Linked DNA regions of Homo sapiens. The protein of the gene in region 5 purifies or fractionates together with the protein of the main gene of each other region. This does not show direct contact. Each region holds a gene or a part of one and is shown on either strand. Other genes may lie near its edges.

Region 1 (4,138 bases), on a different chromosome or scaffold from region 5:
GAAGGTGCCCTGGGTCACTATTTCGGTATCATTATTATTAGGCAGGCCCAGTGCCATCAGGGTCTGCACTCACCTCCCCAGGCCACTGGCTTTGTATCCTGCAAGCGTGCCTAGGTGGCCTGGGACTCTGACCTGGCTCCTCTCCTGTCTTCTCCCCTCCCTGACCCACTCATAATGCTCTACCAGGACATCCAGGCCTGCTCGGCCGCCTGGAAGGCTGACGGCGTGTGCTCCACCGTGGCCGGCAGTCGGCCAGAGAACGTGAGGAAGAACCGCTACAAAGACGTGCTGCCTTGTAAGTCGGGGCTTCCGTAGGGAGTCGGTGCAGCCTTGCACGCCCTGCCACGTCCAGGCGTCAGTGTGCACTGGAGTCACCCACTGTGCTCTCCTCCCAGAGCCTCACCCTCTGCACTGCTCAGCAGCCCACAAGGGCACCTTGGTGGGATCTCTGCATGTGTGTGGTCCCCTGCTGGCTTTCAGCTAGGGGGCTGTCAGAGGCTCCGTCACCCTATCCTACCCAAACTCCACGTTTCTCACCTTATCTGCTGACAGATGATCAGACGCGAGTAATCCTCTCCCTGCTCCAGGAAGAGGGACACAGCGACTACATTAATGGCAACTTCATCCGGGTGAGGGTTGGGGTCACGGAAGGAGGTGGACTGGGAGTGGCCAGGGGTGGGCCGCAGAATCTCAGTCGTGAATTCGGCCTTCACCAGGGCGTGGATGGAAGCCTGGCCTACATTGCCACGCAAGGACCCTTGCCTCACACCCTGCTAGACTTCTGGAGACTGGTCTGGGAGTTTGGGGTCAAGGTCAGCACTTGGGGGTGCGGCACAATGGTGGGGTCAACATCTAAGTACCCCCTCGGCAGTTTCCCTGGCCCCCTCACCCAAATCACCTTCCTCTCCCCTGACCCTCCTTGTCTAGGTGATCCTGATGGCCTGTCGAGAGATAGAGAATGGGCGGGTAGGTGCCCTCTGCCCCCAGGTTTCATGTCCTTGTGGGAGGAGGGAGGAGGGATCTTGCTAGCTCCTCCTTGACCCCAGGACCCGAGGGTCCAGCTCTTGGAGTGACCTTATTGTAGCTCTGTGGGAAGCCCCATTGTTCCTCTAAGTTTTTGTTGATATGTTATTCATCCCCCAGTGTTGGCAACCCCTCTCCTGCTGGGCTTCCCAGCCATTTCACACCTTAGACCATAAGGCCCTATTCTGACTGCTTCCCCTGTAGGCTCTGATCTCTCTTTCCACCTCTCTTCCCTTTATTCACTCCACTCTAACAACTCTGGTCTCTGCTGTTCCCATGTTCCAGGGATGGCTCTGCCTCAGGGTCTGTGCCTTGGCTATTCCTTCAGCCTAGGACATCCTTCCCTGTGGCTTGCTCTATCACCTCCTTCAGGTCTTTGCTCAAATGGTAATTCCTCAATGAGACCTTCCGGGGTGGGTCTTCACACCATTTTAAACTCTCAGCACTTCCATTCTCCCTCCCTTGTCCTACTTTTCCTTCTTTCTTCACAGTTCTTATGAACTCCTAACACACTGGATAATCTACAAATGTATTATGTACATTGTTTATGCTTAATCTCCCTGATTTAGAAGGTAAGATCCACAAGGCCAGGGATTTTTGTTTTGCCTGTTAACATAAATTAGTTACTAAATAAATAAATGCATGTCAATATTGAAGGCTGAAGGCACATAGCTTCATGTGGTTTCTACATTCTTGCCTACTCCATGGATGGGGTAGGGGTTCCCTGGGGTGACTAGCTGATGGTGGAGGCTGTATGATCTGTAGTCTTGTCTCTTTCTCATTCCTGATTTTGGTAATTTGTGTTCTCTCTCTCTCTCTGTCTCATCTCTCTATTTCGCTATCTCTTTTTTCATGCTCCTGCCTGTTTTTTGTAAACAGTGTATTAGAACACAGCCACACTCATTTATTTACATATTGTGTATGCCTGCTTTTATGCTACAGTGGCAGAGTTGAGTAGTTGCAAGTTGAATAAATTATATGGCCTGTAAATTCTAAAGTATTTATCTGACCCTTTATAAAAATGTCAGCCAATCTTTGGACTAGAAGTTTATCATTTTATTATTTTTTCAAAGAACCTGCTTTGGTTGTATTCATTTGTATTCATTTTCTCTATTGATTTTTTCATTTTCCACTTTTTTTTTTTTTGAGACAGAGTCTTGCTCTGTTGCCCAGACTGGAGTGCAGTGGTGCAATCTTAGCTCACTGCAACCTCTGCCTCCCAAGTTCAAGCAATTCTCCTGCCCCAGACTCCTGAGTAGCTAGGAATACAGACACATGCCACCACGCCCAACTAATTCATTTTCTACTTTAATTTCAAGTGTACTTGAAAACAATGTGTATTCTGCTTTGGTTGGCTGGAGTGTCCTGTAAATACCAATTAGGTCAACTGACAGACTTTTTAAAAAGACACTTTTATATCTTTACTGTATATTTTATATCTTTACTGATTTATTTTCTCTAAATGTATGGATTGCTTAGAGAGGAGTGTTGAAATTACCAACTGTTCAATAAGTATTAATTAGGTCAAGTTTGTCAACAGCACTATTCAAGTCTTATTTCTGACAATTTTTTTTGTCTGCTTGCCCTATTATTTGCTGAAAGAGGAATGTTGAAATCTGCTTTAACTATTCTTTCAGTTTTACTTTTCATGTTTTAAAACTTTATGATTGAGTACATATACATTTAGGATTATGTCTTCCTAATGATTGGATCCCTTTCTAATATGTAATGACTCTTTATTTGTTAATATTTTTTTCTGAAGTGTACTTTGATATTAATACAGCCATTTAAATTTCTTTCTTTTCTTTCTCTTTCTTTCTTTCTTTCTTTCTTTCTTTCTTTCTTTCTTTCTTTCTTTCTTTCCTTTCTTTCCTTTCTTTCCTTTCTTTCTTTCTGTTTTTTTGAGATGCAGTTTCCCTCGTCACCCAGGCTGGAGTTCAATGGCGCGATCTTGGCTCACTGCAACCTTTGCCTCCCAGGTTCAAGCGATTCTCCTGCCTCAGCCTCTCGAGTAGCTGGGATTGCAGGTGCCTGCCACCACGCCCAGCTAATTTTTGTATTTTTAGTAGAGATGGGGTTTCACCATGTTGGCCAGGCTGGTCTCAAACTCCTGCCCTCAGGTGATCCACCCGCCTCAGCCTCCCAAAGTCCTGAGATTACAGGCATGAGCCACCGCCCTCGGCCTTAAATTTCTTTAGAGTTTGCATATGTCTTTTCCCATTCTTTTACTTTGTATCTATGTTCATCTTTATTTTTTAGTGTGTTTCTTGTAGGTGGTGTATTGTAGGGACTTTTTTTTTTTAAGACAGAGGGGAATGGAGTGGTGCAATCATAGTTCACTGTAACCTCAAAATCCTGGGCTCAAATGATCATGCTAGCGCAGCCTCCCTGAGGAGTTGGGACTACAGGCATACACCACCGTGCCTGATTAATTGTTTTTTATTTCTTGTAGAGATTAAGTCTCACGTATAATCCAGGCTGGTCTCGAACTCCTGGCCTCAAGCTGTCCTTCCACCTCGGCCTCCCAAAGTGCTAAGATTACAGGCATGAGCCACTGCATCTAGCCAGGACTTACTTTTAAATCTAATCTGACAGTCTCTGCCTTTAATTGGAATATTCAGCCTTTAATGTAATTATCAATAATGTTGGGTTTAAACCTACCATCTTGCTATTTGTTTTCTATTTGCTCTGTTTGTTCTTTTCTTCTTTTTTTCTCTTTCAGAGTGAGAATTTTTTATTAATCTATTGCATAGTAATTATTCCCTTATTAGCTATACATCTTTATTTTAAATATTTAGTTGTGGCTTTAGGGTTTACAATATATATCTTTAACTTATAGTCTATAGTCAAATAATATTCTACATTTCATGTAAAATGTCAGAACTTTACTGTAGTATATTTCGATTACCCCTTTCCATGCTTTGTGCTATTGTTACTATATATTATAGTTCTATATATAAAATATACTCCACAGTACACTGCTATTATAGTTGTTTTAGAATATCTTTTTAAACAGCTTTATTGATATACAATTCAGTCATTTAAAGTGTACAGTTCCATCATTTTTCTATATTCCTGAGCTATGCAACTATTACCACAGTAAGATTTTTGTTTT
Region 2 (4,138 bases), on a different chromosome or scaffold from region 5:
AAACATTTTAATCAAATTGATTCATCCTGTCATTTCATCCCTAAATATTTCATTATCTTAAAACAAAATTAAAAATGTTTTCTTAACTACAGTGCATTATCACATTTAACAGAATTAACAATAATTCCTTAGTATCCTCTAATATTCAGTCTATATGCAGATTTACCTACTTACTAAAATAATTCTTTGTGTTTTTACAGTTAATTTGATCCAGATCTAAAATAGACCCACTTACTGTATTTGGTTTTTTTTTTTTAATCTTCTATCGCTCTTAAATCAAAAACAGGTGTTCCCCCTCTACTACTTTTTTCTTGCCTTTGTCTTGGGAAAGAAGCTTGGTCAATTATGTTATAGTATTTATGAGGTTGTTTAATTCGTTCCTCCATATTTCTTGCAGACTAGAAGTTAGATCAAAGCCTTGTTTACGTTCAGGTTTAGTTATTTTTTTACTTTTATTTTTTAATTTTTTTTGGCAGGAATACATAGATGGTACTGTTTCCTGTTGCATTAATTGAGAAGGCACATAATGTTTGATTGTTGTACTTTTAGGGATACTAAGATTTAATGGTTGGGTTTACACGGTGACGACCTTCTCTTTTTATTGTAGAGTTTCCTGCAGTCTTCTCTGTGGGATGCTAAAACCATTGATGATTGTTGCCTGAACCAATTGTTTTAATAGGCGTTGCAAAATGACTGTTTTCTGTATTTTCTTTCTTTTTTTTTTTTTTTAGCAAACTTACTTTTTAATCTTGTCACTACCTCTGCATTTATTAACAGATGTTAACAGAACTCCTCGTATGCCAGAGCTGTTTGGTTAACTTGAAATATGCTTCATGTCAGAAAAGCAGAATAAATAAAGAGAAAAATAAGCATCAATTTTCAGAGTAGTGAATTGGTGCCCTAGCAACCTCCATTGGTATACAGTGAATTTTGTTTCTCTCTTCTTTTTTTATTTTCCTTAAAAATATCTGGTAGTAAGGAGGATCTCTCTAAGTATCATTATGAACTCATGACTTTTTATATATTAATTTTAATAAATCAGAGTCATTATTCCTTCTGTTTCACTATGTCTCATCTTTGGCCATTGGGAGCCCCTTCAGGCTGGCTTCTGTCTCCTTTTGATAGAACCCCACTGGCCTTTGATAGCTTCATTACTTTTTGGCTGAAGAAAATATTCCACATTGACCTTAATCCATTTCTTGCCCCAGACATGGAATCATCTATTTTTCTAAGATTACTTAGTTATTTTTAGTGGGGAATGATATTTAGAAATACATGTTAGGTGCTATGTATTACTGGGTTGTCATTTCTTTTAAGCTTTTTCAGTGGACATAGCTAGAAACTATGTATTTTTAAAAAGGAAAAGATCATGAGTTTACATTGATATTTCTAAATAAAAATTTAAGATTTTAAGCTTTTCTTTTGTAAGGTTAGATGTTTTATTACAATATGTTCTTGAACTCCTGGCCAGGGCTGAAGGCAAGAGGATTGCTTGAGGCCAAGAGTTTGAGACCAGACTGAGCAACATAGTGAGACCCCATATCTATTTTTTTTTTGAGACATGGTCTCGCTCTGTTGTCCAGGCTAGAGTGCAGTGGCTTGATCATGGCTTGCTATAACCTCAAACTCCTGGGGTCAAGTGATCTTTCCATCTCAGTCCCTCGAGTAGCTGGGACTACAGGCCTGTGACCCTGCACCCAGCTAATTTTTTAATTTTTTGTAGAGACGGGGTCTTGCTTTGTTGCCTAGGCTGGTCTTCAACTCCAGGGCTTGTGATCCTCCTGCCTAGGCCTCCCAAAATTCTACGATTACAAGCATGAACCACTGTGCCCAGCCGTGAGATTCTATCTCTAAAAGAAATTTTAATACATTTTTAATAAAGTATACAGGAGGATGTGCATAAGTTATATGCAAATACTATACCATTTTATTAATATATAAGGGATTTGAGCAACAAATGGAACCAATCCTTGCAGATACCTAGGGACCACTATATCCTGCCTTTTCTGTATTTGTTGCCTGTATTATATCACAAGCCTCCAAGAAAAAAAAAATCACAAGCCTTCAGTTATCTTGATGCCCAATGTAGTGTAACCTTTTCTTTCTCATTCTTGTACCTTGTACTGCAGCACACGGTTACATTCAATTTAGTGTTTCATATTCATTCACTCTAGTATTTCATTACTTCGTACTTCATTATTCTGTGTTGGTTTGTATTTGTTTAATGGGTTTATGTCTTCTTTCAATACATTTGTAATTTCCTGGAGATCAAGACTTTTCCATCACTGTAGGAGGTTTTTAATGTTTTCAAATTAATGTATGAGAAAGGAGGCACAGATATTCTATTAAAAGGATTAAAAAATAAAAACTTTGTCTATGTTTCTAGAATGTAGCTTTAAGACACACTCAAGGAAAATACTTTCAGATGGTCATCACTTTTGGTGCCTGGCCTCAATTCTTATTTGGCTTAGCTTCATTATTGGTGGCCTAGAACTTGGCTGGTAAGTAGGAGAGTTGGAAGCAAGGCTGGCTGCCTGGCAAAACCTACTTATGTTGACTTGGATTGCTTTTGATCTTATTTGCTATTTTATCAACTATTTTTATACTCCTAAATGAGTAGAATTTCTGTGGTTTTTATAGAAGAATGAGAACCAGAAAAGCCAGACTATTTACAACACTTTAAAAATGTGACACTAGTCCTATAATAGTACTGAAGCTACTTGTTATGAGACTGTGTTAATTTGTTTTATGATTAGCGTAGGAAGAAGCAGCTGAGGTGATATGTCCCATCTGTCTGCTTTCCTCTTCCTTCTCTTTCACCCTCAAAGAAGATGCTGGAGATTCTTCAGGGAAGAATAAAAAGATTAAATTTAGAATATATTTGTATTTGTGTTAAGAAAATGTTTCTTGGGTTTGCTTATAGGTCCTGTTATTGCCTTGGAGTTTAATGGGGATGGTGCTGTAGAAGTATGTCAACTTATTGTAAACGAGATATTCAATGGGACCAAGGTACAAGATTTTATTGACTGTATTTCAATCTAACTTTTCATTTCATCTCCTTTTCCTTACAGTCAAATAATACTTTAATACTTTTGTCCCTAATGTTGCTTGGAATTTTTGGGGTGTGTGTGTGTGTGTGTGTGTGTGTGTGTTTAAAGCAGATCATGATTTTTAGAACCTTTGATAAATAATTGGGAACTAAGCTGTGATTTTTTTCTTGCCAAACTAAACTTTAATTGTTTAAAATAATTACAAAATAAGAATCTATTTATTAAAAACCTTCTATAGTATATGTTTCTAAAGTAAAAAGTCTCATCAAATGTCTTTTCAAGTCTTTGCATTTTTAAAAATACTGATTTGTTGAAAATATTTTATTTCTAAGATTATAGTCTTTAGATGGACGATTCTGTTGCCCAGGGTTCATTTTTACGCCCAGGGTTCATTTTTACTTGCTTCAGTAATGCTTCACCAAAAATTGAACTTCAGATATACATAGAAATCATCACATGTAGGCCGGGCGCGGTGGCTCACGCCTGTAATCCCAGCACTTTGGGAGGCCGAGGTGGGCGGATCACGAGGTCAGGAGATCGAGACCATCCCGGCTAAAACGGTGAAACCCCGTCTCTACTAAAAATACAAAAAAAAATTAGCCGGGCGTAGTGGCGGGCGCCTGTAGTCCCAGCTGCTTGGGAGGCTGAGGCAGGAGAATGGCGTGAACCCGGGAGGCGGAGCTTGCAGTGAGCCGAGATCCCGCCACTGCACTCCAGCCTGGGCGACAGAGCGAGACTCTGTCTCAAAAAAAAAAAAAAAAGAAATCATCACATGTAGGCATTTTCTAAATATATTGATGAAGTTGCTGTATCTAAGAATTGCAGACATAAATAAATTTAAAACCAAACATAGAGGATTACATTAGCAAATCTATAATTGACTACTTTTTGATAAATACCTGGGAGGACATTTTGGTTTTATCATCTGATTTGGCTTATGATTCCTTGAATTTACAAAAATTAAAGTACTTTGTCTTTGATCTCATTTTATCATCACAGTAGTACTAAGGGAGAGGGAAAATACCAGGTTGAATAGAAAAGGAAACTGAGAGATAAAATGGTTAGAATTTGGACTTTTAGAGCTGAAT
Region 3 (4,138 bases), on a different chromosome or scaffold from region 5:
ATGTTGCCCAGACAGATCTCGAACTCCGGGGTTCAAGCGATCCTCCCACCTTGGCCTCCCAGAGTGCTGGAATTATAGGTGTGAGCCACCACACCCAGCTGAGCTTTTTGGGTTGGTTTGTTTGTTGAGACAGAGTCTTGCTCTGTCGCCCAGACTGGAGTGCAGTGGTGTGATCGTGGCTCACTGCAACCCCTGCCTTCTGGGTTCAAGTGATTCTCTTGCCTCATCCACCCGAGTGGCTGGGACTACCAGCATGCACCACCACGCCCAGCTAATTTTTGTATTTTTAGTAGAGATGAGGTCTCACCATGTTGGCCAGGGCTGGTCTTGAACTCCTGGCCTCAAGTGATCCGCCCGCTTTGGTGTCCCAAAGTGCTGGGATTACAGGTGTGAACCACCACGCCCAGCCCCTGCTGAGCTATTTGATAGTTTTGGTACACCAAGAGCAAAATTCTACCAGAAATGTACCTCTTGCTGACATAATTGGAGCTGGGTCCAATCCCTAACAATCAACTCGTTTCTCCCATTCAATCCTCTTCTGTTTTTTCTTTTTTTAGAGATAAGATCTTGCTCTGTTGCCCAGACTTGGAGTGGCACGATCACGGCTCACTGCAGCCTTGAACTCCTGGACTCAAGCGAACCTCCCACCTCAGCTTCTCGAGGAGCTGGGACTAAAGGCATGCACTACCACACCCGGCTAATTTCTTAATTTTTATGTAGAGATGGGTTCTTGCTATGTTGCCTAGACTGCTCTTGAACTCCTGGCCTCCCAGAGTGCTGGGATTACAGGCATGAGCCACTACATCTGCACTTTTTTTCTTTTTTAAAGTGTTGAGGCCAGGGGTGGTGGCTCACGCCTGTAATCCCCGCACTTTGGGAGGCGGAGCAGGCGGATCACCTGAGGTCAGGAGTTCGAGACCAGCCTGGGCAGCAACATGGTGAAACCCCGTCTCTACTAAAAATACAAAAATTAGCCGGGCTTGGTGGTGGGCGCTTGTAATCCCAGCTACTCGAGAAGCTGAGGCAGGTGAATCACTTGAACCTGGGAGGCGGAGGTTGCAGTGAGCCGAGATCACGCCATCGCACTCCAGCCTGGAAACAAGAGCGAGACTCCGTCTCAAAAAAATTAAAGTATTGAGAAACCTACTTCACATTAACAAATAGATTGGAAGACACAGAATTTTGTTACTGTGATGTCTTTGTATTCTTTGAACTCCTGACAAGTTTTATGCCAAACTTCCATTGTGAAAAATTTTTGGTCGTTTCAGTTGACAATTTCAGGTGACAATTCCAGTAATCCTTGAACTTTGTCAAAAACAATGGCTTGGAAACTAGCTTGGTTGCAGAAGGATTTAGTGACCCAGTGTTTGCTTTCTCAAACCCATGCCAGTATTTTGAGTTGTCTCTTTGCTTCCTGCCAGGGAAGTGTTTGGACCTGGGGCAAAGCCCCGTGTTCATATCACAAAGAGAGGGAGGGAGGCCTTCCTTTCCTAGGGGGAGGTTAGGAAGAAAAACCTCTTAGAAGATATGTTCTAGCTTGGGCAACATGGCACCTCTACAAAAAGTACAAAAATTAGCTGGGCATGGGGCACGGTGGCATATGCCTGTAATCCCAGCTACTCAGGAGGCTGAGGCGGGAGGATTGCTTGAGCCTGGGAGGCAGGTTGCAGTGAACTAGGATCATGCTACTGCACTCCAGCCTGGGCAATAGAGTGAGACTCTGTTTCAAAAAAAAAAAAAAGGCGATGAGGCCTGGCGTGGTGGCTCATGCTTGTAATCCTAACACTTTGGGAGGCCGAGGCAGGCAGATCACAAGGTCAGGAGATCGAGACCATCCTGGCTAACACAGTGAAACCCCGTCTCTACTAAAAATACAAAAAATTAGCCAGGTGTGGTGGCATGCACCTGTAATGCCAGCTACTCAGGAGGCTGAGGCAGGAGAATTGCTTGAACCCAGGAGGCAAAGGTTGCAGTGAGCCGAGATCGCACCACTGCACTCCAGCCTGGGTGACAGAGCGAGACTCCGACTCAAAAAAAAAAAAAAAATTAGCCAAGTGTGTGGTGCATGCCTGTAGTCCCAGCTACTGGTGAAGGTGAGGGAAGATCCCTTGAGCCCAGGAGGTTGAGGCTACACTGAGCTATGATCACATCACTGCACTCCAGCCTGGGTGATGGAGTAAGACCCTGTCTCAAAGAATTAAAAAAAGCCGGGCACAGTGGCTCATGCCTGTAATCCCAGCAAATTGGGAGGCCGAAGTGGGTGGATCACCTGAGGTCAGGAATTCAAGACCAGCCTGGCCAACAAGGTGAAACCCCATCTCTACTCAAAATACAAAATTAGCCAAGTGTGGCATATGCCTGTAATCCCAGCTACTTGGGAGGCTGAGGCAGGAGAATCGCTTGAACTTGGGAGGTGGAGGTTGTAATGAGCTGAGATCGTGCCACTGCGCTCCAGCCTGGGCAACAAGAACGAAACTCCATCTCAAAAAAAAGAACTAAAATAATTTTTAATGGCAAATGTGATCTATATTTTATCATAATATCATAATAACAACAAAAAAAACTCTCTGGGTATCCATGTCCTGCTTGGGAGGTATTCATGAACTCCAGGGGCTTGAAGACCCCAGGACTCAGGGTGTTGAAAATATCTCACAATCAGTGCACAGCCGGCACCCCCCTAGAGCAGCATCCTGCCAGATGGCCCACTCGGATCCCATATCAGCCCGGCCCTGCCCATCACCTACCTGGGGGCATCTGGGGCTTAGCCAAGCCTGGAGATGAGGCTGGGGCGGTGGCAGAAGGTCCCTCCAGGGTGACCCTGGGCTCTGGGGCTGACGCGATTCTAGGGGCCGGCTGGGTGGGTGCAGGGCTGTAGGTAGGCGTGGACGCCGGGCCTTTTCCTATGGCCACTGGCGGCGGGATGTCCGCTTCGTCAATGGCATTGCCCTTACGGATGGAGGCGAGCAGGTTTTCCAGTGTCTAAGATAAGGCGTGAGTATTGGTTTGGGAGAAGCCAAGAGCTTGGTGCAGGGCATCGGGGTTGGCGGGGGGTCCCTGTACCCTGCCCTCTGCCCACTTACTTTAAGCCCCCGATCGTAGCGCCGCATCTTGGCGCTGTCTCCAGCTTGTCTGGCGCTTTCAATTGCTGTCTGATAGAGCGCCAGCCTCTCCTGCAAGGTGGTCTCCAGCCCCGGATGAGGGGCCTCAGGCTTCGGCTGTGGGAGGGCAGGGGCACAGTGTGGGTGGTGACCCCACTTGGGATGCCCCTGTTAGCCCCTTCTGCAGTAACAGTCGGCCCCATGTCATCCCTGGACCAGCCTCCCCTGCCCCAGTGAGGCAGAAATCATGGTCCCCATTTCCCAGTGGAGGGAATGGGGTTTCAGAAGCATCATGTCACCCACCTGATATGGGTCACATGGCTGTGAAGGATAAGGGTGGGCCAGGCGCGGTGGCTCACGCCTGTAATCCCAACACTTTGGGAGGCCAAGGCAGGTGGATCACTTGAGGTCAGGACCAGCCTGGCCAACACAGAGAAACACCATCTCTACCAAAAAATACAAAAATTAGCCAGGCGTGGTGGCACACACCTGTAATCCCAGCTACTGGGGAGGCTGAGGTGGGAGGATCCCTTGAACCTGGGAGGCAGAGGTTGTAGTGAGCTGAGATGGCACCACTGCACTCCAGCCTGGGTGACACAGCAAGACTCCATCTCATAAAAAAGGCTAGGTCTTGAACCCCGGGCTGTCCGTTGGGTTGTGGTTCAAGGGAGTGGAGTCATCCAAACTGTACCTGGGCCACAGGAGGTGGGGTCTCTGAAGCCTTCTGCTCCTCTCCAAGGACCTCATTTAGCTCCGCCTGCAGGGACACACAGCCAGGGCAGGATATAAGGGCCTGCTGGATGGGGGCAACCGGATCAGAGCCCCCACCCCGCCCTCAGTGCTCACCAGCAGGTCATCATCAGCCTCCAAGTCGTCCTCATCCGTCCCCTCCTCCTCATCCTCATCCGGGTCTCTCATGCACAGGCTGGCCATCTTCTCAATGGCCTCCATCGGCAAGGGACCTGGCGGTAGGGGGATGCCCCAGGTGGACCAGGGTCGTACACCAAGAGCCCCCATTTCCCATCCTGGACACGCTAGGT
Region 4 (4,138 bases), on a different chromosome or scaffold from region 5:
TTGGGACACACCCCGAGCTCCCTTCTTGGTGCAACATCCAGCGCCTTGATGACATGGGCCCAGGGTCTGCGCCTTTCCTGGCTCATTCTCTGCACTGCCACTCGGAATGACTCGCTGCTCCCCATACACAGTCTGTCTCCAGGATCCTGTAATGTCCTTCCTGTCCCAACTAATGAGTCATTCAAGACCGGCTTCCCATGTCACCTCCCCCCATCACCCTCCCGGGCCATCTCCCTGTCTTGCTCGCTGTCTCACACACGCAATTAATTCCTGTCTTCTCCTGAATCTTGCCATACTTTATTTAGCATCCGTCACAGCAATTACAGTGCATGCAAGTGTTCAGGGACTGTGAACTCCTTGGATTAAGAATGTTATCATCGGCCAGGCGTGGTGGCTCATGCCTGTAATCCCAGCATGCACTTTGGGAGGCTGAGGCGGGTGGATCACAAGGTCAAGAGTTTGAGACCAGCCTGGCCAGCATGGTGAAACCCTGTCTCTACTAAAAATACAAAAAATTGGCAAGGCATGGTGGCGCACGCCTGTAATCCCAGCTACTCAGGAGGCTGAGGCAGCAGAATCGCTTGAACCCAGGAGGCGGAGGTTGCAGTGAGCTGAGATCACACCACTGCAGTCCAGCCTGGGCAACAGAGTGAGACTCCGTCTCAAAAAAAAAAAAAAAAAGAATGTTATTTTCATTTCCAAATCCTTAGTACCTTGTACAAGTGCCCATCAGACAGCAAAAACTTGGCAATTGTTGAATGAACAAATGCTTTTTTGTCTTGTATACCCTAAAAGACCATGGATTCTACCGGCCTCCATTAATTGACTGTCCTCCGTGCCTCAGTGCGCATACACGCGGATCTTTGATGCTGGCTGGCTGTTGCAGACTCCTGGTGTCAATATTGGGATGTTGGGTCCTCCCCTGAAGGAAAAGCACCAAATGTGACCAGCACCACACCTGTGGCAAAGCGAGCAGAGCCATGGTTGGCGGCTCTCTTTGTGCATCTTGGGGCGGTTCACCTGTGGCTTTATCAAGGCCCCCTTCTTTCCATGAGTGGATTTCTCTATGCCTTTGTGGACAGGCTTTCATGGAGGGAGGTGTAACCAAGCTCAGAATACAACAGGAACACATGGCGTAATGGGTCTTGTGCCCCTCACTCTGGCCTGTCCCTTCTGTTCATGGGTCTCAAGACCCACCACCCCCAGGGACCTCTGCTCCATATATGCAGATATAAAAACTTCTTTTGAAAGGGCTCATAAGGGCCAGGCAGCATGGCTCATACCTATAGTCCCAGTACTTTGGGAGGCCAAGATGGGAAGAAGATTGTTTCAGGCCAGGAGTTTCAGACCAGCTTGGGCAACATAGCAAGACTCCATCTCTGCAAAAAATATAATAAGTAGCCAGGTATGGTGGCATGTGCCTGTGGTCCCAGCTGCTCAGGGGGCTGAGGCAAGACGATCACTTGAGCCCAGGAGCACCAGGCTGCGATGAGCCCTGCTCACGCAACGGCACTCCAACCTGGGTGACAAAGCAAGACTGTGTAAAAAAAAAAAGGGCACATAGGAATTGGGTGGCAAATTCAAGCCTATGGTGCACACAAAAATACCTGCAAACCACAAATAAAGAAATGGAGGAGGCAATCGGTGCGGGTCTTTGGACACAAGAAGACAGCCACAGCTGTGGCACACTGCAAACGCGGCAATGGTCTCATCAAGGTGAACGGGCGGCCCCTGGAGAAGATTGAGCCGCCCACGCTACAGTACAAGCTGCTGGAGCCAGTTTTGCTTCTCAGCAAGGAGCGATTTGCTGGTGTGGACATTCGTGTCCGTGTGGAGGGTGGTGGTCATGTGGCCCAGATTTATGCTACCCGTCAGTCCATCTCCAAAGCCCTGGTGGCCTATTACCAGAAGTATATGGATGAGGCTTCCAAGAAGGAGATCAAAGACATCCTCATCCTGTATGACCGGACCCTGCTGGTAGCTGATCCCCGTCCCTGCGAGTCCAAAAAGTTTAGAAGCCCTGGTGCCTGTGCTCGCTACTAGAAATCCTACCGATAAGCCCATCGTGACTATCAAAATTCACCTGTATAATAAACAGATTTTGAAGGATTTTAAAGTTTCAAGGAAAAAAAAAAAAGAAATGGAGGAGTTTGGGATTTCTCCAATTTGCTGCTGAGCACTGGCCGCCTGAAGAGCCACAGCGCTTGTTAACTGGCACAGCCGATGGCTCTTGAGCTGACAACAGTTACTGGAAAGACCATTTGTAGAAGAATTTGTGCCATCAAGAGAGTTCTGAGAAATGAGCAGCCTGCAGTATGCGCTCACTCTGCACCGAGTCAGTTGCTTACCTAAAAAACAAACATTGAGATACTCAATGATATGTGTGATGTTTAATATTTTAACAGTAAGCAAACCTTTTATAGAGAGGGGAAAAGGTTTGCCTTCCCTTTCCTGACTGTGTCCCGGGACTAGTGAAGAGAGCCTCTTCAAAGGGAAGTTCTTGAAGCTCTGCTCTTGTCCTCTTGCTGGGCAGAGGCGGCAGCTTTAGGAGTGGCTGGAGTCCTGAGTGTTTAACTTAGAGTAGCTGATGGGGGCTCAGCCGGGGCCGGTCCTGGGCCTCAGTCATCAGCACTTCTGGAGACTCTGCCGCCTCGGCGTCAAGTGCAGAAGGAACATTAACTTCTTTCTCTTGTGTACATTTGCTTTTGTAACAAAAAACTTGCCAGATTTTGTAATTCTAGGATCTCTTCCTTTAAACTCCTTTTGCTGAAACAGAACAGATGCAAGCGTAGTGTTCAGTGAGACTTTAGGTAAAGCCTCACACGTATCAGGCAACAAGCTGGGTGCCGTGGGGGCACAGAGATAAAACCTCGGCAGGGCACAGTGGCTCACGCCTGTAATCCCCACACTTTGGGAGGCCGAGGCGGGCGGATCACTTGAGGTCAGGAGTTTGAGACCAGCCTAGCCAACATGGCAAAACTCCGTCTCTATTAAAAATACAAGAATTAGCCGGGCGTGGTGGCATGTGCCTGTAGCTACTTGGGAGGCTGAGATGGGAGGATCACTTGAACCTGGGAGGTGGAGGTTGTTGTGAGCCGAGATCGTGCCCAGCCTCGGCGACAGAGCGAGACTCTGTCTCAGAAAAAAAGAAAAGAAAAGAAAAGAAAACTTCTATTAAGGTGATGGGGCTTAGGGGTCTTTTTTACCTTTCAGTTTCTGATGTTATGTTCTAGGAGTGATATGCAAAACTTGTATGAAGTTGGAAGTTGTTCTGTGTTTTTAGGACCCACAGGTTGTAGTAGTGTAGTAGTTAGAAGACAGACTTGGAAGTTAAAACAAGCCAAGGTTCAAGCCCTGACTTGGCAGCTTCTTGCTGTGTGATTTTGGGCCAGGCATTTCCTCCTTGTTTCTTCGTCTGCAAAAGGGTGATGTTCCAGGTCAGGAGATCGAGACCATCCTGGCTAGCACAGGGAAACCCTGTGTCTACTGAAAAATACAAAAAAAATTAGCCGGGCGCTGTGGTGGGTGCCTGTAGTCCCAGCTACTCGGGAGGCTGAGGCAGGAGAATGGCGTGAACCTGGGAGGCGGAGTTTGCAGTGAACAGAGATCGCGGCACTGCACTCCAACCTGGGAGACAGAGTAAGACTCCGTCTCAAAAAAAAAAAAAAAAAAAGGGTGGTGTTGCCAGAAGCCAGGAGAGGATGAGGAGGTTGTAGAAGCAGAGTGCTTACAAGCAGGAAAGCAGAGTTTCAGCTGGGTACAGTGGCTCACACCTGTCATCCCAACACTGTGAGAGGCCAAGGTCGGCGGATCACTTGAGGTCAGGAGTTTGAGACCAGCCTGGCCAAAGTGGTGAAACCCCATCTCTACTAAAAATACAAAAGTTAGCTGGATGTGGTGGTGGGTGCTTGTAATCCCAGCTATTTGGGAGGCTGAGGTAGGAGAATCGCTTGAACCTGGGAGGTGGAGGTTGCAGTGAGCTGAGATGGCACCACGGCACTCCAGCCTGGGCCACAAGAGTGAAACTCTGTCTCAAAAAAAAAAAAAAAAATAGAGCTTATATTCTTTTTTTTTTTTTTTTTGAGACAGGGTCATCTCGGAGCTGATGACTCTGAGTTAGCACCATCTCGGTTCACTG
Region 5 (4,138 bases):
GCAAACCCACTGCTGTAGCATCTCTACTTCTAGGAGTCTGTACTGTATCTGTTGAAACACTTCTAGAGAAATGCCCACTCACTGCACAAATATTTATGTTCCAGATATTCCTTTATTAACAGGTAGGAAATGCAGCACTAGAGCCTCGGGTCTTAAAAATGATGTTTTGAACAACAATAACAAAAACTTGAATTCATTATCACTTTTTAACCTACTAAGCAAGTCAAAGAAAAAGAAGAGTTACTGGTCCAACAGATTTTTGGTTTTTTGCCATCTATGATGGAATGCCTTCTTTTAAGTCACCTATTTTAGAAAAACAAATGGGACTAATAAGCATTCTGGCTTTTATAAGGCTACTTTATTTCAAATTCTCTTTCAGCACTGAAGTTAACTGGTTAAATAAATCAAATGAAATTAAAAGATACCTTATATGTTAATAATTCATAATTATACTTTAAAAAATAATTATTTTGTAGATATTGGAATCAAGTTGTCATCTCCCCACTATCATAGGCCTTGTCATCTGAATTTGCTGAGCGTGCCTACTTAGATGAACATGACAGACTCCTTGCTGAAGCCCTGACCCCACCATGGGCTAACACAGACGTTACCATAGCAATCCAAGGGTTCCACATCGTAAAGGCCAGCATCATGTGGGACACAAGAGTGGCTGCTACTGCGCAAAGAACCCAGATGATGTTCTTCCCTGTTTTATCCACCAGGAGCCCAAACACCGGGGACATGGGAGCTGATATGACATATACAACACTGCCCAGAGAACACATAAGACATTTCATGAAATGCAACACAGTCAAACATCAGTTTCAAGAAAGTCTTGAAAATATCAGGCAAAGCAAATCCTAACTCATTTAACATTCTTATAAAATGCTCATCAAAAAATATAAAAAGCAGTTCAAGACTTCTTTGGTTTTCCACTAATTTAAACACAGCCACTCAGGATTCAAGTCCCAATGTAGTCCCAGTTTCGCACTTAAAAAATATTAGGTCACATACATCTTTTTTGCTTCTTTTAACATTTGATTATAAAGACCCATACTTCACATGCAATAGGCACTTACAAAATTAATTTTAAAATACCTGTTAATTGCACTTGCTGCCTGGGAAGAAAATCCAAATTTCTCTGTAAAGAAAACTCTAAAATTAAAAAGACAGAGAAATTAGCACATTAGAGAGAACTACTCTGTTTTCAAAAAATAAAGTTGAATAAAAATAACTCAAGTTTAATCAGCTTCTTTCTTGATATTATTCTCCCACCTTATTTATATTCACCTTCAGGCAATCTGCTAAAGCTTCAGTATTTATATTAATGTTTACTGACTAAATGACATATGATGCATATTTTTTTCCTTTTCTGGTATGCAGTAAGGAATACACACAAATTTTCAGAAAATCAAATATACTACCACAGGGACTTAAGGCTGCTTCTTTTCCTTAAAAGCAGTACTGAATGGGTTCTTTGCTAAATAATAAACAGGGTTCTTGTCTGAAACTATTTAAAAGGACAGCCTGAACTCAAAGGGTATAAACCATACCCTTACACAAACACACTTACATTGCGCTGCTTAAGCAGCTGCCAATGAAAAAGGAGAGAGAAGTAGAAGATAAAGCAAAGAAGAATTTGCTTTGAACCCAGAATTTAAGTCTGGCAGAATTACAGTCCTAATCAATGGAGATGTTCCCAGGCACAGTGCACCAATAAACAGTCTCCATTCTCAGTAAGAGCCTTTCTAACCAAGGAATAAAGAGGGAATGAAAAAGAATACTAGTCTAAAATCAACTATTAAATCAATATTATGAATCAAAAATTATTAGGTATTGACATGGTTTGGCTGTGTCCCCATCCAAAGCTCATCTTGAATTGTAATCCCCGTAATCCCCACCTGTCATGGAAGTGACCCTGTAGAAGGTAATTGAATCATGGGAGTGGTTTCCCCCAAGCTGTTCTCGTGATAGTGAGTGAGTTCTCACGAGATTTGATGATTTTATAAGCAGCTGGCATTTCCCCTGCTGGCACTCATTTCTCTCTCCTGCCACCATGTGAATGAAGAATGTTTGCTTCCCTTTCTGCCATGGTTATAAGTTTCCTGAGGCCTTCCCAGCCCTATGGAACTGTGAGTCAATTAAATCTTTTTCCTTTATAAATTACCCTATCTGGGGCAGTTTTTTATTAGCAGCATGAGAGTGGAGTAATACAGGTATTTCTTCAAAAGAATAATAAAAGTATAAAACCAATACTAAACCTTAAGCTAAAAGAAAATGTATATCCCAGGATCTAAAGTAATTCCTGTGAAAATATAAACTATAACCAGAGAAGCAAGATTTACTGCTTTAAAAACTACATTTATGTGATTGAACTCTCATGATAATTTAGACAAGAAATAATGGAAACATAGAGAATACTCACTTCCCAAGTCCAATAAAAGGGAACACAGCAACATAATAGCAGACACAGATGATAAATATAAGCCACAGGGGTAAGGAGAAGTCCTTTACATCAGTTAATTTAATAACTTCACCTTAGAGAAGAAAGGGAAGACACTATCAGCATAATTTTGCATACCTAAGGAGCTTTCATCTATAGTCAAGATTATTTTTTAAAATCTTGTGATTAATCTTTGCAATTCAACTTAAAAAAATACTTTTCTAGTAAATTACACAAACATCATTTCTGGGATAACTTACAAAGACATAAGAAAAAGCAAAACCTAAGACTAAGACTGGCATCTACCTTTCCTGCTCCTTTCCAAGAATAACCATTTTGCAAATATACAATCGAGAATGTAAATTCTGCCAAAAGATTTAAGGGGAAAAGAAAATACATCTAAAAATTTAGAAAAGTGGAAATCAATTTGGAAATAAAAAATAAAAATCATGTCTTAAGCTCCACCTGGTTTTACAACACTTCATTAGGAACTTAGATCTCATTATAAAATCTCACAAAGGCCGTAATTCCCCTAAGTCCCATTCTTTCATTTAGACTTACCTGTTTTTCCTTGTTCTTTATGAAGGATTCTCTCTGCTCTCTGATCCAAGTAGGCAAGAGCCAAGGCACAGATTAGTGAAAGAATACACGTTATACCCCCTAAATAAAAAAAAAAAAAAAAGAAAAACAGACTTTGAAAAGAGAACCAAACAGAAGGTTCCTAAGGAGAAGTACATTACATAAACAGCAAAAACAGCAACTGAAAGGGATGTCACATAAAGACACGAGAAAAATCTGCAATTACTAAATCGGGACAAAAGAGGAAGAGTACATTCAAATACTCAGCAAACAGTAGTAGCTTTTACTGCATTATTTCACAGTTCAAAGTTAAAGATTAAAAGGAAAAGACTAGAAAAAACTAGTCTAGTCCTGTAATGCAGAATACAGACTGAAGAAAACTGATGAGCAGCTACTGATGTAGTCCTCATTTCTTCATTCAGTCTAAGCACCAATTGTCAATGGACACCAGGGAAAAAATGATGAAGCCAAGTTAGGCTCTTCATCTCTCTTCCTTCCGATGTTTTCCCAGAGTCCACGGCCTTCGCTCCTGCCCTCTGGCAGCCCAAGTGCCCCATCCTCCCAAAGCGCAGTACTCTCAAGCTCTTTCCTGTGAGATCAGCATTTCTCTCTAATACCAATCTCATATCACTACAGAAAATCAGGATAAAGAGTGAATAACGATACACTTCTCAGGAAGAATTTCCAAAAGAAGCTTAATAAAATAAATGAATCTTTAATTCACTGCCCTACCACAGCCCGGTTGAAAATTCGCTGAAATGAGCATCAGTAGACGTGAGCTCTAACGAGCTGAATCACCTTGGACATGGAACACAAGCTCTCTTGGATTCAATTTCCCCAGTTTTAAATAAGAGGATTTGACCTGATGATGGCACAGGTCTTTTCTGGCTCTAAAAGTCTTACTCTAAAATTTCCCATTGTGGAGGAAATTAGATGGAATACTAAGAAGCTTTTAAGAGTAAAAAGGAGGTTTTAAGTAAGGCAAAGGATTTGAGAGGGAGAGTTTGAAAGAATCTTTAAATATGCTTGCCTGCTTAGGATTACCACTCCACTGTCTTCTTTTACCAGGCTGTATCGACCAAGGAATTATAAGGAATAAAACACAGAAAGACAAAT
Region 6 (4,138 bases), on a different chromosome or scaffold from region 5:
TCTCTTAATATAGCTATATATTATGGTATCCTTCCTTGTAACTAGTGGGTGACCCATGCTTGTCAACCTATATTTAGATAGAAAAGAATATTTAAATAGACATGTCCTGTTCAAAGCTGCCAAACTTAAAATAGTTTTACCTTAAGGACAATTTGGGAGATACTAAGAAATATTATAATGTTATAACGATACCATGTTAGAAAAAAGAAAAGAAGAACAAATACATTACTATACTTCTTGATAAGAAATAAAAATAAAATTGTTGAAATACACTTACTATAATATATACTCAATCATTTAGCCCCCTCTCTTGACCCAGAAAATTTCATAATCTTATATTCAGGCCTGTGAGAATTTTACATAAGTAAAACCGTAGATAAATACAATAAAAAGTAAATCAAGAACTCAAAAACCAACTAGAGACAGGAGAAGCCACCATGAAGGACCTTCTATTTAATCTTTAAGGCCATTCTTTCAATAATCACTCAGTGCCTCTGTATATTAAGGCAAGCTCTGTGCTAGGTTAGCACTAATAGAAGCTTCTCAAAACACTACCACATTCATTATTGCATTTAACCCTTGCAACAATCTTAAAAAGGTGTGTGAAACAAGGATTAGTCTCATTTTACAGATGAAGAGTGTGACAGCAATTAAGTCGTTTGCTCAAAAATCACAAGGCCAGAAAAGAACAAAACCAGCATTAAAACACAAGTCTCCTCACTCCTGGTCTACTACCCACTCCAATGGTCCTAGAAATGGAAACCTCACTTTCTTCTTTTAGAAACAGTAATGGTTTATTCAGGCTGGGCACCTTGGCTCACGCCTGTAATCCTAGCACTTTGGGAGGCCGTGGCAGGCGGATCACGAGGTTAGGAGATCACTGGCTAACACGGTGAAACCCCATCTCTACTAAAAATACAAAAAATGAGCTGGGCATGGTGGTGGGCGCCTGTAGTCCCAGCTACTAGGGAGGCTGAGGCAGGAGAATGGTATGTACCTGGGAGGCAGAGTTTGTAGTGAGCCGAGATCACGCCACTGCACTCCAGCCTGGGCAACAGAGCGAGACTCCGTCTCAATACGAAACAAAACAAAAACAGTAATGGTTTATTCATTTATTTTTGAAACTGTGGCCATAATCTAACTTGAAACAGAACTTTTAGGACTCTATCTTTAGAATGAAAACACTGACATTGATTAACACTTACATTATGATTGAGAGCACACCTTCTCATTTAATGTTGACAACTGTAACTCCCCAAGGTACATTAATACTTCATTTAACAGGTTTGGAACCTGAGGCCAAGAGAGTTCACAGAACTAATCCAAAGTCTCAGAGCTATTAAGTGGCAGGCCAAAACTGGACTCCAAATTCCTCACCCTCTCTACTACACATTGTCCTCAGCAGCTGTACAAATGTTTTGTTTCTTTAGAATGAATTACGTCCCTTATTTGCTAAAAATGAACCTCGGATATCAGCTTTTTAGTCGCTGAAACAATCCAGCTGCTAGTTTCTCTACAGCCTTAACTCTCTAAAATATAGCTCCAAATCTGGAAGGAAATGAAAGAGATTCTCAAACATCTGAAAGTATGGTTACAAAGCCAAGCCATTAAGCTCTCCTTCAGCCAGAACTGATTTAAAAGGTAATTAATAGCTAGGTTATCTATTCCCTCAAGTCATAGAATAACCAGCAAACTGAAAAGAAGAAGAGGGAAAGGATGAAATTACAATAGGTATATACTGATCACCATGACAAGTGACAAGCCAGTGAAATCAACAAAACTGAAAAGTAGTACTATGCATAACAGAAATGTAAAATGACCTCAGTGGAGAAGGTTAAATTATGTTTAATCTCAGTGTCCAGCAAGTAACAGTTATCAAATAAATATTTGCTACATACAAATATGAGTGTTAACGTGTAATACAACACAACAAACGCTTTAGAAAGAGGGTCTGTCGAAAATGAATACAATGTTTTAGTATTTATGTATTTTCAATTACATGGAATCACATATATGCAGCATATCATTCCCTAAATGATGTTAGTTTAAATATTATTACATTCATATTTTTTATTCCTTTCTCCCTTTAAGAGAACTTGTTTTCTGAACTGATCCCATGATCTCAGGATTTATCCAGAAGATCCTTAGCTTTTCTTCTCAAGCTTAATAAACACTAGGTGAAATTGCTAAAAAGCCATTTTTGCCAGCTGAAATAAGGCAGACCTTTTGTCCTCAATTATCTGATAGTATCTATTTCAAGTAGTTTTATACAGCTTTATAACAGACTTGCCTGAATGTAGGAACCCATCCCTCCATCTCCAATTGAACACCTCACCTGACTTTAGGGCATTACCACGCCACCACAGGCCACCTTTTATTTTTATTTTTTTTAAGATTCTGCTTTTGGCCAGGCATGGTGGCTCACGCCTGTAATCCCAGCACTTTGGGAGGCTGAGGCAGGCAGATCACTTGAGGTCAGGAGTTCGAGACCAGCCTCTGCCAAAATGGCAAAACCTCATCTCTACTAAAAATACAAAAATTAGCCTGGCATGGTGGCACATGCCTGTAATCCCAGCTACTCGGGAGGCTGAGGCAGGAGAATGGCTTGAACCTGGGAGGCGGAGGTAGCAGTGAGCCGAGACCGCGCCATTGCACTCTAGCCTGGGTGATAAAGCAAGACTGTCTCAAAAAAGGAAAAAAGAAAAGAAAAGAAAAAGATTCTGCTTTTAAGTTAAAGCTGCCCTAAGAGTGGAGGCTAAAGACAATCTAATGAAGATTCATTATTTTTTCAGAAGAATCAAGTTCAAACGTGTACCAGTCTTCTACTCAGTAACCGAACATTATTTCCTTTGAGTCTATGTATATTTAAAATGCAGTGAACATACAGACGCATACATACATGATTTCACATACATTATCTCATAAATTATATTAGAATATTTTCATTTTCACAATGAAAATTACTCCTTTGAGACTGTACTAATAAAAATATTAGGGACTACGTTTAATTTTTTCCTTTTAAATGTACTGCTATGTGTGCAAAGCTAATAAACAATCATTCTTTATTCTTTTTTTTTTTTTTTTTTGAGATGGAGTCCCACTCTGTCACCAAGCCTGGAATGCAGTGGCACAATTTCGACTCACTGCAACCTCTGCCTCCTGGGTTCATGCAATTCTCGTGCCTCAGCCTCCCAAATAGCTGGGATTACAGGCGTGCACTACCACGCCCAGCTAATTTTTTTATTTTTTAGTAGAGACTGGTTTTCACCACGTTGACCAGGCTGGTCTTGAACTCCTGACCTCAAGTGATCTGCACACCTCGGCCTCCCAAAATGCTGGGATTACAGGCCTGAGCCACTGTGCCCAGCCAACAGTCATTCATTTTCGACGTTTCTTCAAAACTCAAGACATCAAATAAAACATGTTTTAATTAGTAAAATTATATCAATAGGGGAAACATCAGGTCTTTCAAAAAAGCATAAATCAGAAAACAGAACCAGTAATACTGTTTCAGTGCTACTGTTTTCTCCTTTTCAAAGGCATCTCTTGCTAAAGGTAACATCTTTGTAAAAAAGAATTCCACCCTGGAGGTTATCATGGTGCATCTTATGATACAGCCATCCTTTATCTCAGATGCTAGAAACATAGTTGATTTGGAAAAACCAGTGGCTATTGGTGTTTTTTTGACATCTTTTTTATTGTTGTGGTTAGTCCACTCACTATAATCAAACTGTTAGGTCATCATAGATAATTTGCATGAAAGAAGAAAGATACACCCTTTCCTTGCTGGGATAGTAACTACAACCCTGTTGTGTGTAATACAGGCCAACAGTCCTTGCTCATCATCTCCTCTGGGGCCTGCAAATATTCCAGGAAAGATAGTATCATTACTTCCATTTCTTATATAAAACTGTCCATTGTCTCTCCTCACTCCATACCCAAGGTACCAGGCATTAGGAGCTGCAGATGAGAAATGATATCAGAAAGGGAACCATAAATTCATCTTAAAAACTCAAATCCTAGATTTACAAGATACAGAAAATAGCAATTTTCTGTTTGGACCACTGTCCTGTTTTGATTAGATCTAAACATAATCTACAACCGAAACCCAGAAAGTATACCCTTTTTCCCTAGCCTA
Region 7 (3,509 bases), on a different chromosome or scaffold from region 5:
AGGCAAAAAGAAAATCAAAACAAAGCTTCCAAATCTTTACTTTGCACGGAGGGGAAACCTATCTCCTGTGATTGTAGTTGTATTTTGTTGTATAAATTGACATAAGAATATTCCTGTTGAATCGTGATTTTATCCATGGCAGTGTTTTTTCATGAGTTATTTTCCTTGTGTGTTTGTTGCAGACCCCTGTAAAAGAGCCCAACAGTGAAAATGTAGATATCAGCAGTGGAGGAGGCGTGACAGGCTGGAAGAGCAAATGCTGCTGAGCATTCTCCTGTTCCATCAGTTGCCATCCACTACCCCGTTTTCTCTTCTTGCTGCAAAATAAACCACTCTGTCCATTTTTAACTCTAAACAGATATTTTTGTTTCTCATCTTAACTATCCAAGCCACCTATTTTATTTGTTCTTTCATCTGTGACTGCTTGCTGACTTTATCATAATTTTCTTCAAACAAAAAAATGTATAGAAAAATCATGTCTGTGAGTTCATTTTTAAATGTACTTGCTCAGCTCAACTGCATTTCAGTTGTATTATAGTCCAGTTCTTATCAACATTAAAACCTATAGCAATCATTTCAAATCTATTCTGCAAATTGTATAAGAATAAAGTTAGAATTAACAATTTTATTTTGTACAACAGTGGAATTTTCTGTCATGGATAATGTGCTTGAGTCCCTATAATCTATAGACATGTGATAGCAAAAGAAACAAACAAAAGCCAGGAAAACACTCATTTTCGCCTTGAATATGTAAATGGGATTAATTTTGTCCTGTGCCTTATGTGGAAAGGAACTTCTTTGGTTTTCCTTTTTTGTTCTGGTGGAAGCATGTGCAGGAGACATATCATCCAAACATAAACCATTAAAATGTTTGTGGTTTGCTTGGCTGTAATTTTCAAAGTAGTTAATTGAGGACAAAGGGTAATGCAGAAGTGATAGCTTTGGTTTGCTGAGTCTTGTTTTAAGTGGCCTTGATATTTAAAACTATTCCTGCCACCATTTCTTCTCCTTGGCCACTTCTTCCTTGCGTCTCCCTGCATGCTGCTTTATTTGCTTCTCCCTCCCCAACCACCTCATGGTATATTTAAGAGTGAAAGGGACAAACTAGTAGGTTTGTCAAGTTTAATATAAAGCACTGATGTAACTTGCTAGGTAAACGGAAAGATAAGTTCTAACTGCCTACTATCCAATGTCAGTTAATTGGTGTCTTCCCCCCTCATTTGCTCTCTTCCCTAAAATGTGTCCCAGATGCCTTCATTTGCTGTTTTACTTCTATGTTCTGCTTTTCCTCCTCTCTTTGTTCCCTTCCTGTCTATCCATTGAGTTTATGAAATGGAAGAGTTAACTGCATGCACTAGTGTTTGGAGGGTGTTGTGGTTTGTCTTTCTAATTAGGTGTATAGCCTATTCACTTTCCTAGAATAAATCTCTTAACCTAAATTTGAGTAGTCTGCATTTTGGCAACTCCTCTAGCAGCTTGGTAGCCTAGTACAGGTTGTTTTTTTAAAAAAGGAAAAGCAGGAAGGAGGAGTGAATTTTATTAACATGTTTGCCAAATGTATTGAGATTTGGCCTCTGAAGAACACTTTTTCAGTGTTAAGTTTCTTTACCTTAAGATTCAGAAATACTTTAGAATATTATTAATTTTAAGTCCTGTCTTTACATCCTTTTGGAAAACTTGTATTACCATGGGTTTGGAAAAAGGACAACGAAAGGCTTTTCATGTAAAGATAAGATCTTTAGCTATCTCTAACCCTGTCCTTTTTTCACTGCATTTTTTCTAGTTTTGCTTCATTGCTTATCATTAGGATAGGGTAAGTGAAGTTTGCTATGCTGCTAGCATCCTAAGATGATACCTTTGTTGAAAGAATTGTGAATAGCATGATTCATTTCTAGCAGAGGCTGAGTTTAGGACAGCAGCTTCCATTGAGAAGTCTTTCTGTGTCGTGAATAGCATTTTAATGACCTCTTGGCTCACATAAGCAAACAACATAGGGACGTATCTGCTATGAAAATCCACAAATTTTTCAGATAGTGCCCTAAAAACAATTTTATATGCCTCACTGGTTGTTATTCTTAGGTTATTCCCACACTTGACTTTATCATTGTTTACTACTAGTAAAAAGCAGCATTGCCAAATAATCCCTAATTTTCCACTAAAAATATAATGAAATGATGTTAAGCTTTTTGAAAAGTTTAGGTTAAACCTACTGTTGTTAGATTAATGTATTTGTTGCTTCCCTTTATCTGGAATGTGGCATTAGCTTTTTTATTTTAACCCTCTTTAATTCTTATTCAATTCCATGACTTAAGGTTGGAGAGCTAAACACTGGGATTTTTGGATAACAGACTGACAGTTTTGCATAATTATAATCGGCATTGTACATAGAAAGGATATGGCTACCTTTTGTTAAATCTGCACTTTCTAAATATCAAAAAAGGGAAATGAAGTATAAATCAATTTTTGTATAATCTGTTTGAAACATGAGTTTTATTTGCTTAATATTAGGGCTTTGCCCCTTTTCTGTAAGTCTCTTGGGATCCTGTGTAGAAGCTGTTCTCATTAAACACCAAACAGTTAAGTCCATTCTCTGGTACTAGCTACAAATTCGGTTTCATATTCTACTTAACAATTTAAATAAACTGAAATATTTCTAGATGGTCTACTTCTGTTCATATAAAAACAAAACTTGATTTCCAGCTGTGTGGTTTGGTTTTCATTTATTTATGGAATTGGAAGATTACTTCTGAAAAAAATGTGGAATCGCAAACTCAAAGAGTTGACAAAAATGGGAAATCACTGTCAACCTATGGAAAACTGGAAAGGCAATTTCAAGAACTGTCTTTGCTGAGAAACTACATTAAAAAATAGAATTATCTCTGGGATCCTAAAGCGGAATCATCCTTGTGCCAAAATAGGAGATGCCACGATCCTAATCACACCTGGCTTACACTAGTTGGATGTGCCTAAGGCCACTACAGCTGAGGTCACCTGATTCCTCAGGGGGACCAAGCTGGGCTCCTCATACTGGAGGGTAAATCCTTGTTTTAGCAGCAGCTGGCCTCTTACTAAGAAACAAAGTATTGGCCAGGTGCGGTGGCTCATGCCTGTAATCCCAGCACTTTGGGAGGTCAAGGCGGACGGATCACGAAGTCAGGAGATGGAGACCATCCTGGCTAACGTGGTAAAACCCCGTCTCTATTAAAAATACAAAAAAATTAGCCGGGCGTGGTGGCGGGCGCCTGTAGTCCCAGCTACTCGGGAGGCTGAGGCAGGAGAATGGCGTGAACCCGGGAGGAGGAGGAGGAGGCTGCAGTGAGCCGAGATAGCGCCACTGCACTCCAGCCTGGGCGACAGAGCAAGACTCCGTCTCAAAAAAAAAAAAAAAAAAAAAAAAGTATTGGCTGGGCGCTGTGGCTCACGCCTGTAATCCCAGCACTTTGGGAGGCCGAGGCGGGTGGATCACCTGAGGTCAGGAGTTCAAGACCAGCCTGGCCAACATGATGAAA

Evidence for each region.
Region 1: the proteins of MFSD1 (region 5) and PTPN18 purify together in Homo sapiens (affinity purification with mass spectrometry; one large-scale study listed by BioGRID and IntAct). This does not show direct contact.
Region 2: the proteins of MFSD1 (region 5) and RP2 purify together in Homo sapiens (affinity purification with mass spectrometry; one large-scale study listed by BioGRID and IntAct). This does not show direct contact.
Region 3: the proteins of MFSD1 (region 5) and CC2D1A purify together in Homo sapiens (affinity purification with mass spectrometry; one large-scale study listed by BioGRID and IntAct). This does not show direct contact.
Region 4: the proteins of MFSD1 (region 5) and ABCA3 purify together in Homo sapiens (affinity purification with mass spectrometry; one large-scale study listed by BioGRID and IntAct). This does not show direct contact.
Region 6: the proteins of MFSD1 (region 5) and OSTC purify together in Homo sapiens (affinity purification with mass spectrometry; one large-scale study listed by BioGRID and IntAct). This does not show direct contact.
Region 7: the proteins of MFSD1 (region 5) and RAB10 purify together in Homo sapiens (co-immunoprecipitation; one large-scale study listed by IntAct). This does not show direct contact.

What each region holds. Positions count from the first base shown.
Region 1 is NC_000002.12:130,358,681-130,362,818, forward strand, and holds part of PTPN18 (tyrosine-protein phosphatase non-receptor type 18), read left to right. Parts: intron 1-186; coding exon 187-295; intron 296-552; coding exon 553-629; intron 630-716; coding exon 717-812; intron 813-927; coding exon 928-966; intron 967-4,138. UniProt on the Homo sapiens protein: Differentially dephosphorylate autophosphorylated tyrosine kinases which are known to be overexpressed in tumor tissues.
Region 2 is NC_000023.11:46,874,582-46,878,719, forward strand, and holds part of RP2 (protein XRP2), read left to right. Parts: intron 1-2,923; coding exon 2,924-3,009; intron 3,010-4,138. UniProt on the Homo sapiens protein: Acts as a GTPase-activating protein (GAP) involved in trafficking between the Golgi and the ciliary membrane.
Region 3 is NC_000019.10:13,912,245-13,916,382, reverse strand, and holds part of CC2D1A (coiled-coil and C2 domain-containing protein 1A), read right to left. Parts: intron 4,061-4,138; coding exon 3,945-4,060; intron 3,856-3,944; coding exon 3,790-3,855; intron 3,216-3,789; coding exon 3,081-3,215; intron 2,980-3,080; coding exon 2,745-2,979; intron 1-2,744. UniProt on the Homo sapiens protein: Transcription factor that binds specifically to the DRE (dual repressor element) and represses HTR1A gene transcription in neuronal cells. The combination of calcium and ATP specifically inactivates the binding with FRE.
Region 4 is NC_000016.10:2,330,233-2,334,370, reverse strand, and holds part of ABCA3 (phospholipid-transporting ATPase ABCA3), read left to right. Parts: intron 1-1,637; exon of another isoform or gene 1,638-2,124; intron 2,125-4,138. UniProt on the Homo sapiens protein: Catalyzes the ATP-dependent transport of phospholipids such as phosphatidylcholine and phosphoglycerol from the cytoplasm into the lumen side of lamellar bodies, in turn participates in the lamellar bodies biogenesis and homeostasis of pulmonary surfactant.
Region 5 is NC_000003.12:158,818,614-158,822,751, reverse strand, and holds part of MFSD1 (lysosomal dipeptide transporter MFSD1), read right to left. Parts: intron 3,104-4,138; coding exon 3,005-3,103; intron 2,538-3,004; coding exon 2,426-2,537; intron 1,156-2,425; coding exon 1,099-1,155; intron 769-1,098; coding exon 612-768; intron 1-611. UniProt on the Homo sapiens protein: Lysosomal dipeptide uniporter that selectively exports lysine, arginine or histidine-containing dipeptides with a net positive charge from the lysosome lumen into the cytosol.
Region 6 is NC_000004.12:108,660,166-108,664,303, reverse strand, and holds part of OSTC (oligosaccharyltransferase complex subunit OSTC), read right to left. Parts: intron 1,072-4,138; coding exon of another isoform or gene 998-1,071; intron 1-997. UniProt on the Homo sapiens protein: Subunit of STT3A-containing oligosaccharyl transferase (OST-A) complex that catalyzes the initial transfer of a defined glycan (Glc(3)Man(9)GlcNAc(2) in eukaryotes) from the lipid carrier dolichol-pyrophosphate to an asparagine residue within an Asn-X-Ser/Thr consensus motif in nascent polypeptide chains, the first step in protein N-glycosylation.
Region 7 is NC_000002.12:26,134,756-26,138,264, forward strand, and holds the end of RAB10 (ras-related protein Rab-10), read left to right. Parts: intron 1-182; coding exon 183-266; 3' UTR 267-2,699; downstream 2,700-3,509. UniProt on the Homo sapiens protein: The small GTPases Rab are key regulators of intracellular membrane trafficking, from the formation of transport vesicles to their fusion with membranes.